2 linked regions of the Homo sapiens genome follow. The protein of the gene in region 2 interacts with the protein of the main gene of each other region in a biochemical or structural test. Each region holds a gene or a part of one and is shown on either strand. Other genes may lie near its edges.

Region 1 (6,824 bases), on a different chromosome or scaffold from region 2:
CCTCGGCCTCCTGAGTAGCTAGGACTACAGGCACGCACCACCATGCCCAGCTAATTTTTTGTATTTTTAGTAGAGACAGGGTTTCACCATGTTGGCCAGGATGGTCTCAATCTCTTGGGCTCATGACCCGCCCGCCTCAGCCTCCCAAAGTGCTGCGATTACAGGCATGAGCCACCGCACCTGGCCGAGTTTATTTTTGTGTAAGATGAGAGCTGAGGATCCAGTTTCATTATTCTACATGAATTATCACATTGATTTTTCCCGCAGCCTTTTCTGATAATGATCAAACAGAGGAAAAGCCTGGGATTTGATCCACATTGTTTTCCGGGCACATGGAGTTCTCTGATGCACCAGCCTCCACATCTGTGCTAAGGCCAGGTCTTACTTTGCTATAAGTACCTTTGTTTGGGGATCAAGATAATTGGCATGGAATTAACTATATATAACCTCACATGGGAAATCTATTAATCTGTGTTCTTCATTCTGCATGTTTTACTCATGAAATTAATTCATTGGATTATGACCAGCATTAAAAAACAAACAGATGAAAAACATTCATAGAATGGAATAGGAGTTATAGGGTGTATTTAAGGCAAATTGTTCTGTAATACCTCACATTCACCTGTGTGCAGGTATTTGTGTGCATGTGTACTTGGTTCCTATATGCTCACTTAGTAAATTTAGGAATATGCTCCTTCTAGGATCTGGTTCTTTTTTTTTTTGTATGGCTGCCACTCTGTAATTGAACCTGGTTCCACGACTCCCTTTAGAAGGGCCTCCTCCTCCTCTTCCAAAAGGACTCCTCTGCCCCTGTCTGGAGGAAGGTATCTGGCAATATATCTGGGCAAGATATTCAAAGAGCTGAGCTTGGAGCAATTGTAACCCAGGCTGAATTCTGATGACCTCTTCTAAACTTCCAGGTCAGTGCTCCTGGAGGCTCACCCACACAAACACATAGGCACACTAACAACACCTGGAAGACACACCAACCTCATGCAGAGGAAACCATACCCTCACTGGCCTGGCAGTGACACAGGGGCCTGGGCAGGCATAGCACAGAAGAGTCCTGGTGTAACTGAGATAAAGTATCTCAATTGTACAAATAATTATTTTCGGCTCGGTTGTCTCTAGCGTGCAGCTGGTGAGCCTTCACCATGGGCCCAGGAGAAGCGGATCATATGAACAAGGCCTGGGGATGGGACAGTTGAGCTGGGGCTGCAGGGGCTAAGGCTGTTTCCCATGGGGCTCAGCACTGGTGGACAGGTAAGCAGACAGGTTTGAAGATGCTGGCTCAGTTCACAGACATGGTCACAGAAAAAGCCTGGAAAACTATAGGGTTTTCTGCTGACCTCCCACACTCACCATGGACAGTCAGTACCCTGCACTGGCCCGTGTCGTACCCAAGCAGAGTGTGCTTGAAAATTGGATGTATATTAGTAGACCCCGTGCTCAGCGGGTACAGTTTAGAAAGGGAAGTTAACTTATCTGTCAATTAGTAAGTTAACAACACACAAAGTGTACTATGTTTTATTAATCAAACAAAAATATGTTTAACACCTGCTGGGCACAAGGAGTACAATGGTAAAGAGTTTAATGGAAATGTTTAATGGTTAATGCCAAGACCTGTGTATGTATTAATATGATGCCAATCATTTAATACCTGATGAAGCAATAGTTTCTGGGACTACTTGGGTTAGAAAATGGGCCTGCCACAGGCCCAAGCCCATCCCCTACCCTGCATGTGCTCCTGCTCCACTCCCTTGTGCATCTATCCGGTATAATGTTGTGGGGAAGGGGAGTGCTCGATTCCTCACCTTAACCAGCCTGCCAGCTATCCATGCAGAGACATGTGGGCAAAACTCCTAAGGCCAGACCTCCCCACTCCATTCTCCTGCTAGGCTGCTGAGGGACTCCATTCGAACCTGGTAATTACCCTGCCTCCTTCCCTCCAGATTCCATAGGTTACCTCTTCCTCTTTGCAGACTAACTAAAAGCCACCATATCTAAGTAGCATTTGATGAGAAGAAACTAGTTATTTATGTAAACCAAAATAATTAATGTTACAACGGAGAAACTTTATATAGCAGCCACAGATGAAGCCTGGCATGAGGAAGTCAATGATCAGTTGCTGCTCTCGCCATATGGTGGGTTATAAAATCTTCCCAAGACAAGTGAGGCACCGAGAAATTGAAGACTCATATACATTCCAGAGAACAGGGCCTCTCTCATCCATCTCCTCCATTAGGGCCTTTCTTCATATTTCATAGATAGACAGCTGGAGCCAGTTCTCTGCTTCCTGGGCCCTCTAAAAGGGCCAAAGACTTGGACAAATCCATTGTCCTGGGCACTCAGGAGGCAAGATTCTGTGTGTGCATGAGTGTACGAACATGTGTCATGTGAGAGAGTGTGTGGGCACTGGGCACACGAAGCATGAGGGTAGGTGAGTGAACATGTGTCAGCCTACATGAGTGTATATATATGTGCACAGAGTGTGTGAGCATGTGTGCATCAAACATAAGTTTGTGTGAACGTGGCACCACGAGTGAATTTGTGTGTTTGTGTGTGGGGTAAGTGAACATGTTGCAGCCTGAGTGAGCAAGTGTAGTGTGTGCAACAGGGATGTATGTATTCATGTTTACACATGTCAGCTTAAGTATGTTAGGGTGTGTGAACGTGTGTCAGTGTGAGTATGTGTGGGCCTGTGCACAGAATGCAAGTAAGTGTATGTGTGCATGCCGAGGGTGAGTGAGAGTGTGTGTGTGGGGGGGTAAGTAAACATGGCTGGGCATGGGTGAGTGTGCACACCAGGTATGAGTGGCTGTGTGCAGTGTTGTGTGTGTTCACAATGAGTGTGTGAAACAGACCTGCCAGGCCATGCTAGTGAGAGGTGACAGCATGCTGGCAGCCCTCGCAGCCCTCGCTGGCTCTCGGAGCCTCCTCAGCCTTGGCGCCCACTCTAGTGGCACTTGAGGAGCCCTTCAGCCCGCCGCTGCACTGTGGGAGCCCCTTTCTGGGCTGGCCAAGGCCGGAGCTGGCTCCCTCAGCTTGTGGGGAGGTGTGGAGGGAGAGGCACGGGCAGCAACTGGGGCTGCGGGCGTCGCTTGCGGGCCAGCACGAGTTCCGGGTGGGCGTGGGCTCAGCGGGCCCGCGCTCAGAGCAGCCATCCGGCCCCGATGGCCCCTGGCAGTGAGGGGCTTAGCACCTGGGCCAGCAGCTGCTGTGCTGGATTTCTCCCCGGCCTTAGCTGCCTCCCCGCAGGGCAGGGCTTGGGACCTGCAGCCCGCCATGCCTGAGCCTCTCTCCCCTGCCCCACTCCGTGGGCTCCTGCACAGCCCGAGCCTCCCCTATGAGCGCCGCTCCCTGCTCCACGGCGCCCAGTCCCATCCACTGCCCAAGGGCTGAAGAGTGCAGGCGCATGGCCGGGGACTGCCAGGCAGCTTCACCTGCGGCCTGGTGCAGGATCCACTGGGTGAAGCCAGCTGGGCTCCTGAGTCTGGTGGGGACTTGGACAACATTTATGTCTAGCTAAGGGATTGTAAATACACCAATCAGCACTCTGTATCTAGCTCAAGGTTTGTAAACACACCAATCAGCACCCTGTGTCTAGCTCAGGGTTTGCGAACACACCAATCGACCCTCTGTATCTAGCTAATCTAGTGGGGACATGGAGAACTTTTGTGTCTAGCTCAGGAATTGTAAATGCACCAATCAGCACCCTGTGTCTAGCTCAGGGTTTGTGGATGCACCAATCAGCACTCTGAGCCTAGCTAATCTGGTGGGGACTTGGAGAATCTTTATGTCTAGCTAAGGGATTGTGAATGCACCAATTGGCACTCTATATCTAGCTCAAGGTTTGTAAACACACCAATCAGCACCCTGTGTCTAGCTCAAGGTTTGCAAATGCACCAATCTATACTCTGTATCTAGCTAATCTAGTGGGGAGGTGGAGAACTTTTGTGTCTAGCTCAGGGATTGTAAACACACCAATCAGCACCCTGTCAAAATGGACCAATCAGCTCTCTGTAAAACAGACCAATCGGCTCTCTGTAAAATGGACCAATCAGCAGGATGTGGGTGGGCCAGATAAGAGAATAAAAGCAGGCTGCCCGAACCAGCAGTGGTAACCTGCTCAGGTCCCCTTCCATGCTGTGGAAGCTTTGTTTTTTTGCACTTTGCAGTAAATCTTGCTGCTGCTCATTCTTTGGGTCCACACTGCCTTTATGAGCTGTAACACTCACCGTGAAGGTCTGCAGCATCACTCCTGAAACCTGTGAAACAACGAACCCCCCGGGGAGAAACGAACAACTCCAGACTCGCCGCCTGAAGAGCTGTAACTCTCACTTCGAAGGTCTGCAGCTTCGCTCCTGAGTCAGTGAAACCACGAACCCACCGGAAGGAAGAAACTCTGAACACATCCAAACATCAGAAGGAACAAACTCCGGACACGCAGCCTTTAAGAATTGTAACACTCACCGCGAGGGTCCGTGGCTTCATTCTTGAAGTCAGTGAGACGAAGAACCCACCAATTCCGGTAGGAGTAGGAAATCACATCACCTTCTTTTAATCAGTCTCAAATACCTGGCCCCTTGTGGAACCTGCAAGAGCCAGGTTTGGCGAATGCAATGATAAGCAATTGTCTAATCACTGCCTTGAAAAAGAGCAGAGCATTTGAGTATGCTGTCTCCTCCTCTCCCTCACTTCAGTTGGGCCCAACATGACAGTCTTAATGGAAGCTCGGGGGTCAAAGGCTGGTGGCTTACTTCACGTATATTGCAGCATTTCAGTACTGCTCTGCACGTGTGCTCCCCCGCCTGATGAGGTAAGTGTTAAACAGGGATGATCACAGCTTCAAGTAAGCAATGGGAATTGGATGTTTTATGTCCTCTGGCGCCATCTTCAGCAGAGAAATATATAGGTCACTTTTACTTGTCTGGTTTTGGTCTTGAAATATGTACTGAAACTTGTGAAGGAGCAGACCTATATTAGGATAGAGTAAAAGAGGGAAAGACAAAAACCTCTTGGGCTTTTCAGGAGACTTGGTTCATTCTCTGCTTTTCAAGCCATCTCATGGCCACATGCCTGCTTTGGAGGCTGACTCGGAGGCACAACCGGCCTCAGGGCGTTCCTCAGGGACCCTACCTTTCTTGCTCCCTGAAGAAATGTGCACATTGCTTGAATAAAAACAATCAAAGAACACTCAGTCAAGATCGTCTGCTGCAGTCTTCGTTGAGGGCTGGGGATGCTAAAAGTCAGATGATTCATGTGTACCCTGTCCATCCTAACTCACCTGCTCTTCTACTTCCGCAGCTTACTCCAGTGCCCACAGATACGACAGAGTGTCCCAAGTGCCCCTCACACTCTATTAGCTGCATCCTTAACCTCTTTTTGCCACACCATAAGCATTGGGTTTTGTTTGTTTTGAGATGGAGTCTTGCTCTGTTGCCAGGCTGGAGTGCAATGGCGTGATCTCAGCTCACTGCAATATCTGCGTCCAGGGTTCAAGCGATTCCCCTGCCTCAGCCTCCTGTATTAGCTGGGACTACAGGCGCACACCACCACGCGCAGCTAATTTTTTTGTATTTTAGTAGAGAAGGTTTCACGATGTTGGCCAGGATGGTCTCAATCTCCTGACCTCGTGATCTGCTCGCCTCGGCCTTCCAAAGTGCTGGGATTACAGGCATGAGCCACGGCGCCTGGCCAGCATTGGGGTATTTTATTGAAGATGGAAGCCATGAATGTTGAGAAAGCCTCAGCAGATGGGAACTTGCCAGAGGTGATCTCTAACATCAAGGAGACTCTGAAGATAGTGTCCAGGACACCAGTTAACATCACTATGGCAGGGGACTCTGGCAATGGGATGTCCACCTTCATCAGTGCCCTTCGAAACACAGGACATGAGGGTAAGGCCTCACCTCCTACTGAGCTGGTAAAAGCTACCCAAAGATGTGCCTCCTATTTCTCTTCCCACTTTTCAAATGTGGTGTTGTGGGACCTGCCTGGCACAGGGTCTGCCACCACAACCCTGGAGAACTACCTGATGGAAATGCAGTTCAACCGGTATGACTTCATCATGGTTGCATCTGCACAATTCAGCATGAATCATGTGATGCTTGCCAAAACCGCTGAGGACATGGGAAAGAAGTTCTACATTGTCTGGACCAAGCTAGACATGGACCTCAGCACAGGTGCCCTCCCAGAAGTGCAGCTACTGCAGATCAGAGAAAATGTCCTGGAAAATCTCCAGAAGGAGCGGGTATGTGAATACTAATTCCTGTCTTCATTAAACATTTTCCATCTCCTCCTATTGATTCCTTTTCTCCTTTATTTCACTGGACTCATTGAAACACACCTGGTGCAGAAGGGTATCTTACAATTTTCGGGGGCATGTAGAGAGTGTGGTTGTGTTGTTCTTTGAGATCTTTTGAGTGTTGGGGCCAAGATTCCCAGGCAAGGCTGCTTGCTTCGAAGGTCCTTTCCCTTCACGGAACTCTCCACCAGGTGCTAAAAATGATCAGTGTCTTAAAATGGATGCAAGATTATATCATCAGGGTCCTAGCACTCTCAAACTGAGTCATAATGAGGGTATTTTCAAAGGTGTGGACAGGGTGCAGGGAGACCACCAAGACAAAATGTTAACCCCACGGTATAACCTCAAGGCAAGTAATGGTCGGGAGGAGCCCTCTCCAGGTTCGAACAGGCAAGTAGAGAGGCAGGTTGCTTGAATCTCAAGATGGAGTTTATCAGTAATAATAAAGACTTCTGGGCTTAAAAACACACAACTGAGATCTACAACAAAACCTCTAAAACAGAAAAAATAGTAACCA
Region 2 (7,027 bases):
CTGATCAGTCTATATCCATATAAAGAAAATGCCTCATCACACCATGCCCATATAAGGCAAATGCCCAGCTGCAACCAATCAAGCTGTTTTGTACATCACTTCCTTTTCCTGTCTATAGATACTGCTTGCCTACCTTGCTGGGTGGAGCACTCCCAGTTCTGAATGCTGCCCAATTCATAAATTGCTGTATGTTCAAACCAGTTCTGCTAAATTTAATTTGCCTAAAGTTTTTCTTTTAACAGTAATCATAACTGATGCTCTCATAACAAGGTTCTCCTCTACTAAGAAATTCCAAGTGGCAAAATCCAGTCAGGATAGAATCAATCATACTTGAGTAGAGCTAGTAAGCCCTGCAACAGCCAAGGTCCATCCATAAAATCTGTTTATGGCAATGCCCATATGTTGCAGTGCCTTTCTGCTTCCCGGGAAAATCAAACATTCAGTATTTTATCTCCCTGACATAATCTGAAGCTGCCCAGAACATGTCAGAAAACTATACTAGTGGCATCTAAAGGATGAGAAACTTAGAATCTGCTTCAGGTCAACAGTATAAGCATGATTCATGGTTCCTCTTTCAACTATCAAAACTCCATTACACCTTCCAAAATGACCTAAGACTTGAATACCCAGTGCTCCTAGGAACTCAAAATCACTTTAAAATAACAAAACTTTATTAGTAGTAGTAGTCACAGTACTATAGTAGTTGTAGCAGCAGCAGCAGCAGCAGCAGCAGTAATAGTAGTAGTAACCCTGCCATTATTCTAATTTAACATTTATGGAGCACTTACAAATATGCCAGGCACTATATTAAGGTCTTCACAGGCACTACTTTATCTAATTCTTGCAAAAATCCTTTATGGTTGGAAGTATTCTTACCCTCATTTTACAGACATGAAACTTGAGATTCTGAAATTGTTATTTAACTTGCCTAAGATCACGGCCTGCTTGATTACAGAGTCTGTGCTCTTAACACTTATGCCATGTGGAGGCAGTCACCAAACCAGCAAACCCATATATTTTATTAAATAAAAAAATTAGCATGTACATACCAGGCTCTATAAGCTTCATACCACTCAGTACATATAAAGACAAACACAATCAATCAATCAGTCAATCACTCAATCATCCACCTTTGTCTGTCCACACAACCGCTCCTATGGATGAGGCCAGGGGATCAACAGAGATTGTGATCCACTTCCCCAGAGCAGAGAATCCCCCAAACTCACCAGAGTTCTTCTAGCATGACGTTCTTTGCCAGCATCAGTGCCAAGGCTTGGGCACCCACACTGCCAATGTTGTTCCCCACCAGGCTGGAGGTAATCATGGAACAAAAGTATGTCAGAGCAGGGAAAGACCTCAGAGATGAGCTAACCTATGGAGGGCAAAATTCGTGGTGCTCTCCTGGTCTGCTCCATTTCAGACATCACTAATTGATTGCGGTGCTCTTTCTTTTTTCTTTTTTTTTTTTTTTCTACCCTTTTTAGACATCACTAATTGAATGCAGTGCTCTTTTTTTTTTTTTTTTAGCTTTTTTAGACATCACTAATTGATTATAGTGCTCTTCTTTAAGCCCAGGTGCAGCCTTAGAATTCTTTTTAATGTGGTGCACTGGGCACCCACTACCAATGGATTGGAATTGGTCCTTAAGATAAAATGTACCTGATCCAGCCCAATATCTTCAATTTACAGATACTGTATCAAAACCCTGAGAGGACAAGGGACATTTCCAAGTCACCCAGAAAGACTCGAGTGTCCTCTCTTGAAATCCAATGGTCTTTTTTCCTTACTCCATTGCCTAACATTGTGGGGTAGAAATAAAGTTCAAAGACCTTCAGAACTGGCCCCAGCTCCTCCCTCTTCACCTGATCTCCCCAAGAAAACTGCAGGATAGACTCTGAAGCTTACCTGAGCCACCTCAAGCTCTGGTGATCACCCAAGGCTTCAGCCAGGGCCTGGGCCCCCTCGTCACCCACTCTGTTGCCCCAGAATCTGAAAAGGCCAAAAGAGTCAACAGACAGTGTCAGTGAGTACCTGATATGTGTTCTAGACATGAACTAACAGTCCTCCTCCCTCTGCAGTCCCAGCCAGAGGGGCAGGACCACTCAATCCCAGAGTGGCCTCACTGGGGCTCCTGGTCCCAGCAAAGTGGACCTGCCTCCATCTTTTGGGTGGGATGGCCAAACTTAACCCAAGAGTTTTCAGTGGCTTTACATTACAGACTTAGAGAATAGTAGAGGGCTACCCAGCCCTAACCCTTAAGGACAGGAACTCACTGACAAGAGTAATTTACAGTTGTGACACTTTTTCTGACACTTAGTTCAGATACGCTTCCTGGTAACTGCCACCCACAAGTCCTTAGCTACCCTCCAGTACCTGCCCATAACAAGTCTAACACTTCTTCTGCAAGCTAGCTCTTTATCTCCTGCTTCTTCCTAACACCCCTAATTCCTTCACGCCATCAGCTTCAACTCCCCCAGCTTCTGGGCCATCCTCCTCTGACTCACTGTAGTTTGAAAACATCCCTTTCCAAAAGGTAGATCCCAACTCACACCTTCTGACTTATTGACTGTATTCTAGGGACCTACCCTGGACAGGTATGTACACAAGTTAGCAAAGAATGGCTGAATTAGGATGTCCACTGTACTTTCATTCATTAGGTATGTATCGATTGAGCTCTGGCTATGTGCCAGCACTGCTCTGTGCCCCAGGGATATGACACTGTAATAACAAAAAACCTGAAAACAACTTAATAGTCATCAAAAAGTGACCAGTTAAATACATTATGTAACACTCTGCAGCTCTTTGAAAAATGAGGTCAGGCTGAGCAAGGTGGCTCACTTGTGTAATCCCAATACTTTGGGAGGCAAAGGAGGGAGGATCACCTGAGCCCAGGAGTTTGAGACCAGCCTGGGCAACATAGTGAGACCCCGTCTCTACAAAACATAAAAATATCGGCCAGGCATGGTGGCTTGTGCCTGTAGTCCCAGCTACTCAGGAGGCCGAGGTAGGAAGATCACTTGAGCTCAGGAGTTCAAGGCTACAATGAGCTATGATTGCAACCACTGCACTCCAGCCTGGGTGACAGAGTGAGACCCTTTCTGTAAATATTAGTAAAATAAATAAATAGATAATTAAGTAAATAAAGAGGTCATAATGACCTAAAAAAATTCCTATAATATATGGCGAAGCAAAAAAAAACAACAACAAAAACAAAACAAAACAAACAAACAAACAAAAAAAAAAACCAAGCAAGTTACAGAACACTTTGTATCATATGACAGCGTTTGGGGGTTTTAGCACAACGCCTGGCCCAGACAGGTGCCCTAATAAATATGTGTTGAAAGAGGTAAATACCCCTGATGTGGCAGATGTGACCTCAAGCAGAAGAGAGTTCAGTGGGGCTGTGGCCTCCTTTGTTCTAGACTCTGTTGCTACTAATGCAGTGTGGAAAAGATGTTGATTTCTAGAGCAACATAGTCCCATTTGTGGCTCAAACTGAGCTTGGGGGCCGGGTGCGGTGGCTCACACCTGTAATCCCAGCACTTTGGGAGGCCGAGGCGGGCGGATCATCTGAGATCAGGAGTTCAAGACCAGCCGGGCCAACATGGTGAAACCCTGTCTCTACTAAAAATACAAAAATTAGCTGGGCGTGGTGGTGGGTGCCTATAATCCCAGCTACTTGAGAAGCTGAGGCAGGTGAATCGCTTGAACCAAGGAGGCGGAGGTTGCAGTGAGCCAAGATCGTGCCACTGCACTCTAGCCTGGGCAACAGAGTGAGACTACATCTCAAACAAAACAAAACAAAACAAAAAACTGAGCTTGGGGGCAACTTGCCTCCCTGTGAAATGGGCTGGAACACCTAGGCCCTAAGGTTATTCTCTCTTCCTACAGTCCCAGGTTCTAAAACTCCCAGTTCTTGTCAAATGGACTCCAGTTCACACTAGGGCATGACAGGATAGGAGAGAGGCTGCTGGAAACAGCACAGGTGCAAGCCTGGGTGCCTAGCAAACAGAGGAAGCCCACCCTGGGGCTGCAGGTTGGGGTACTCCCCTCCCTGGCAGGCCCTAGCATGGTCCTACAGGGAGCAAGAGCTCCGAGGGACCTAGCACAGCCCCTCTTATCCTGGGTGCCTTCCTATCCTTCCCCATTTCCTTCTCTTTCTTAGGTCAGGGGTCCTCACCCCTGGCTGTACATCCCCTGGGAAGCTTTTTAAAACTCCTGATACCTGGGCCTTGCACCTAGATATTTGCATTTCATCAGTCTGGGGTGGGAGGCCTGGCAATAGTGTTTAGAAGCTTCCAGGTGGTTTTAATATGCAGCTAAAGTACAGCCCTAGCGCCCCCTGAGGATCAGAGGGCTTCCTGTCACCAGCTCGTGGGCACTGTCCTCCCCTAGCCCCAACATCCCAAACTTCCTGTTTGTCAGGCATAGACCAAGTATGAAGGTGGCAGTCAAGGGCCGCCCACTCTCTCCCTGGCTTGTCCTCCCCACTGGAGCTGGGCTGCCTCTGGGGCCTCCTGGCTGAAGAGTTTCACCTGCCCCTAAATCCTCAAAAGTCCCAAGCCCCTCCATGCAGGTCCCTCTTCCTGGAATCCAACCTACCCCAGGAACTGCAAGGAGGTGTTGCCTCGGAGCCCCTCGGCCAGCACTTGGGCTCCCGCGGCAGTGATGTAGTTATTCCCCAGCCTGGAAGGGAAGACAGAGGAGGCTGAGAGAACACAGCGGCAGGCAGAAAAGGAGGGCCGTCTGTGCCCTGGCCAGGGAAACACAGGAAGAAAGCATTGAAGACCTGCCCGGGAGGCAGCAGCCACATCAGGTGCCCTCGCTGCTAGGTCTAGTTTACTCAGCGGCTCCCACAACTTCATTTTCCCCCAGCAAAGGGAAAGGGGCAGCGGGACGCTGTTTGCACAGCAGTGTGACAATTCCAGGCAGGAGCCACAGTAGGCAGCTGTCCTGGGAGGTGGTTTCCCCGGGACAGCGAGGGTGACTCAGGGTCACACCTTTCCCTCTGGTCTCAGCCGCCCTCGATCCAGACCCCATCGTGCCCTCTGCAGCCTTCCCAGATCTGTTGTTGCTACAGGTAGGCTTTACCTGTTGCACAAGAGCGCTGGGCAGGTCCAGGTGGCTGGAGGGAGGGGTGGGGCCCACTGAGCCTTCCAGAAAGGAAGGAGAGAGGGAGGGCCAAGGCTAGGGGTGGGGGAAGATCCCAGCAAGGAAGGCTCCTGCTGCAACTGAATCCAGACACCTCGGAGAGCTTCGGAGAAGCCCCAGAGCTCTCACCTGCAACCCTAGGCTTCCTGGGATAACTATACGCTTTCATTCTTTCAAGGAACGTCAAGCCACTCAGCTCACAACAATCCTATAAGGCAGATATTATTGTATCCTTGGAGAAGGGGTGTGGCAGCTAGGAGAACTCGCCTTTCAGGTCTCCAGCCTCAGCTCCTTGGAGGTAGCCAAGGGCCCCAGCTGCTGTGCTCCAAAATCTAACATCCTCGCATCTGCACTTGCCAGCCCCTGCCTGAGACATCAGGCTCCCCTGCCTGGTGAATTTGGTTCAAGAACTCCTCATCAGCCTTGCCAAGATGTCTTAGGACTGCACTGAAGTCCAAGGTGCCCAGTCTCAACCTTCCTTCCTTCCCTCTCTCCTTCACTCAGGGACACACCTCCCAGCCTCCCCCAGCTCCCTTCCCCACTTCCCCTTTTAGGACTTTTCCCCAATAAATGGGTGGCACATTGAATCCCTGCTTGGAGGACCGGACTCACATAAGGAGAAACAAGCTGAGTGCTTGTGTGATTTACCCATCATCTTTCAGCCACTCGCTTACTATATAAAGCCCCTGCCAGACGGTGCAGCCCTTCATGTGGATTAACTTGCTTGCTCATCACTACAGCCTGTGAGGTAGCCAGGGTTATTACCTCCATTCTACAGAAGGGGAAACGGAGGCACACAGACATTGGGCTGACCTGAGGTCACGCAGCTAATGAGGGTTCAAACCTCGGGCAGTCTGGCTCCAGAGCCTGTGCTCTCTATTACAATGATATACGGTAATCCCTGCCCCCTGCTTATCCGCAGCTTCGCCTTCTATGGTTTCAGTTATCTGAAATCAACTGCAGTCCAAAAATATTAAATGGAAAATTCTAGAGATAAACAATTCATACATTTTAAATTGCATGCTATTCTGATCACGTGCCATCCAGCTCCATCCCACCCAGGACGTGAATCAGCCCCCCGTCCAGCGCATCCACGCTCTATACGCTCCCATTTGGTAATCATCAAGATCGTCTGCTCCTGACATCCAGCTGCCGACCTCATTGTTGCTCAAAGATTAGGGATCTCTGGGAGCAGATGATTCTCCTCCTGAAGTGTGGTCAGGTCAACAGCAGCCCAGCGCTAGAGCACAGTGCTGCATGCGTCATCCACCTCACTTCCTCCCATCACACAGGCATTTTACCACCACACATCTTCCCAAGAAGAAGGGTGAGTACAGTACAAGAAGATATTTTGAGGGAGATGGAGAGAGTCCACATTCACATAGTGTTATTATAGTACATTGATTGTTATAATTGTTCTATTTTATTATGAGTTGCTATTACTCTCTTACTGTGCCTAATTTATAAACTACACTTTATTGCAGGTGTGTAGGTATTGGGAAAAGCATGGTATGTGTAGGGCTTGATACTCTCCATGGTTTCAGGCATCCACTGGGGTCTTAGAACATCTCTCCTGCACATACCGGAGGACTACTGTGTTGGCCACAAACTCAGCCTCCATTTCTGAAACTAGCACCCTTCTCAGGGATGGGCCAGCCAGGTCTGGCCACAGCCTATTCCAGGCTTGTGAGTCTGAGGGATCAGGCAGTGGTAGCAGGACTGAGTCCTTTGTACAAATTGGCACCTGTGGTTCTGATCTCAGTAGCCCTTGCCGAGACTGAGCTATGTGGCCCGCCATTTTAAAATGGCGGCTCCCATCCACAAACCCAGCCCAAGAGGTAAAAGAATAGATGGAAGCAATTCTTTACTTTGTCTT

Evidence for each region.
Region 1: the proteins of NOD2 (region 2) and IRGM form a complex in vitro, tested with the Homo sapiens proteins (2 studies listed by BioGRID).

Annotation. Positions count from the first base shown.
Region 1 is NC_000005.10:150,842,402-150,849,225, forward strand, and holds IRGM (immunity-related GTPase family M protein), read left to right. Parts: upstream 1-4,119; 5' UTR 4,120-4,819; intron 4,820-5,307; 5' UTR 5,308-5,722; coding exon 5,723-6,268; 3' UTR 6,269-6,301; downstream 6,302-6,824. UniProt on the Homo sapiens protein: Immunity-related GTPase that plays important roles in innate immunity and inflammatory response. Acts as a dynamin-like protein that binds to intracellular membranes and promotes remodeling and trafficking of those membranes.
Region 2 is NC_000016.10:50,717,584-50,724,610, reverse strand, and holds part of NOD2 (nucleotide-binding oligomerization domain-containing protein 2), read right to left. Parts: intron 4,687-7,027; coding exon 4,603-4,686; intron 1,990-4,602; coding exon 1,906-1,989; intron 1,311-1,905; coding exon 1,227-1,310; intron 1-1,226. UniProt on the Homo sapiens protein: Pattern recognition receptor (PRR) that detects bacterial peptidoglycan fragments and other danger signals and plays an important role in gastrointestinal immunity.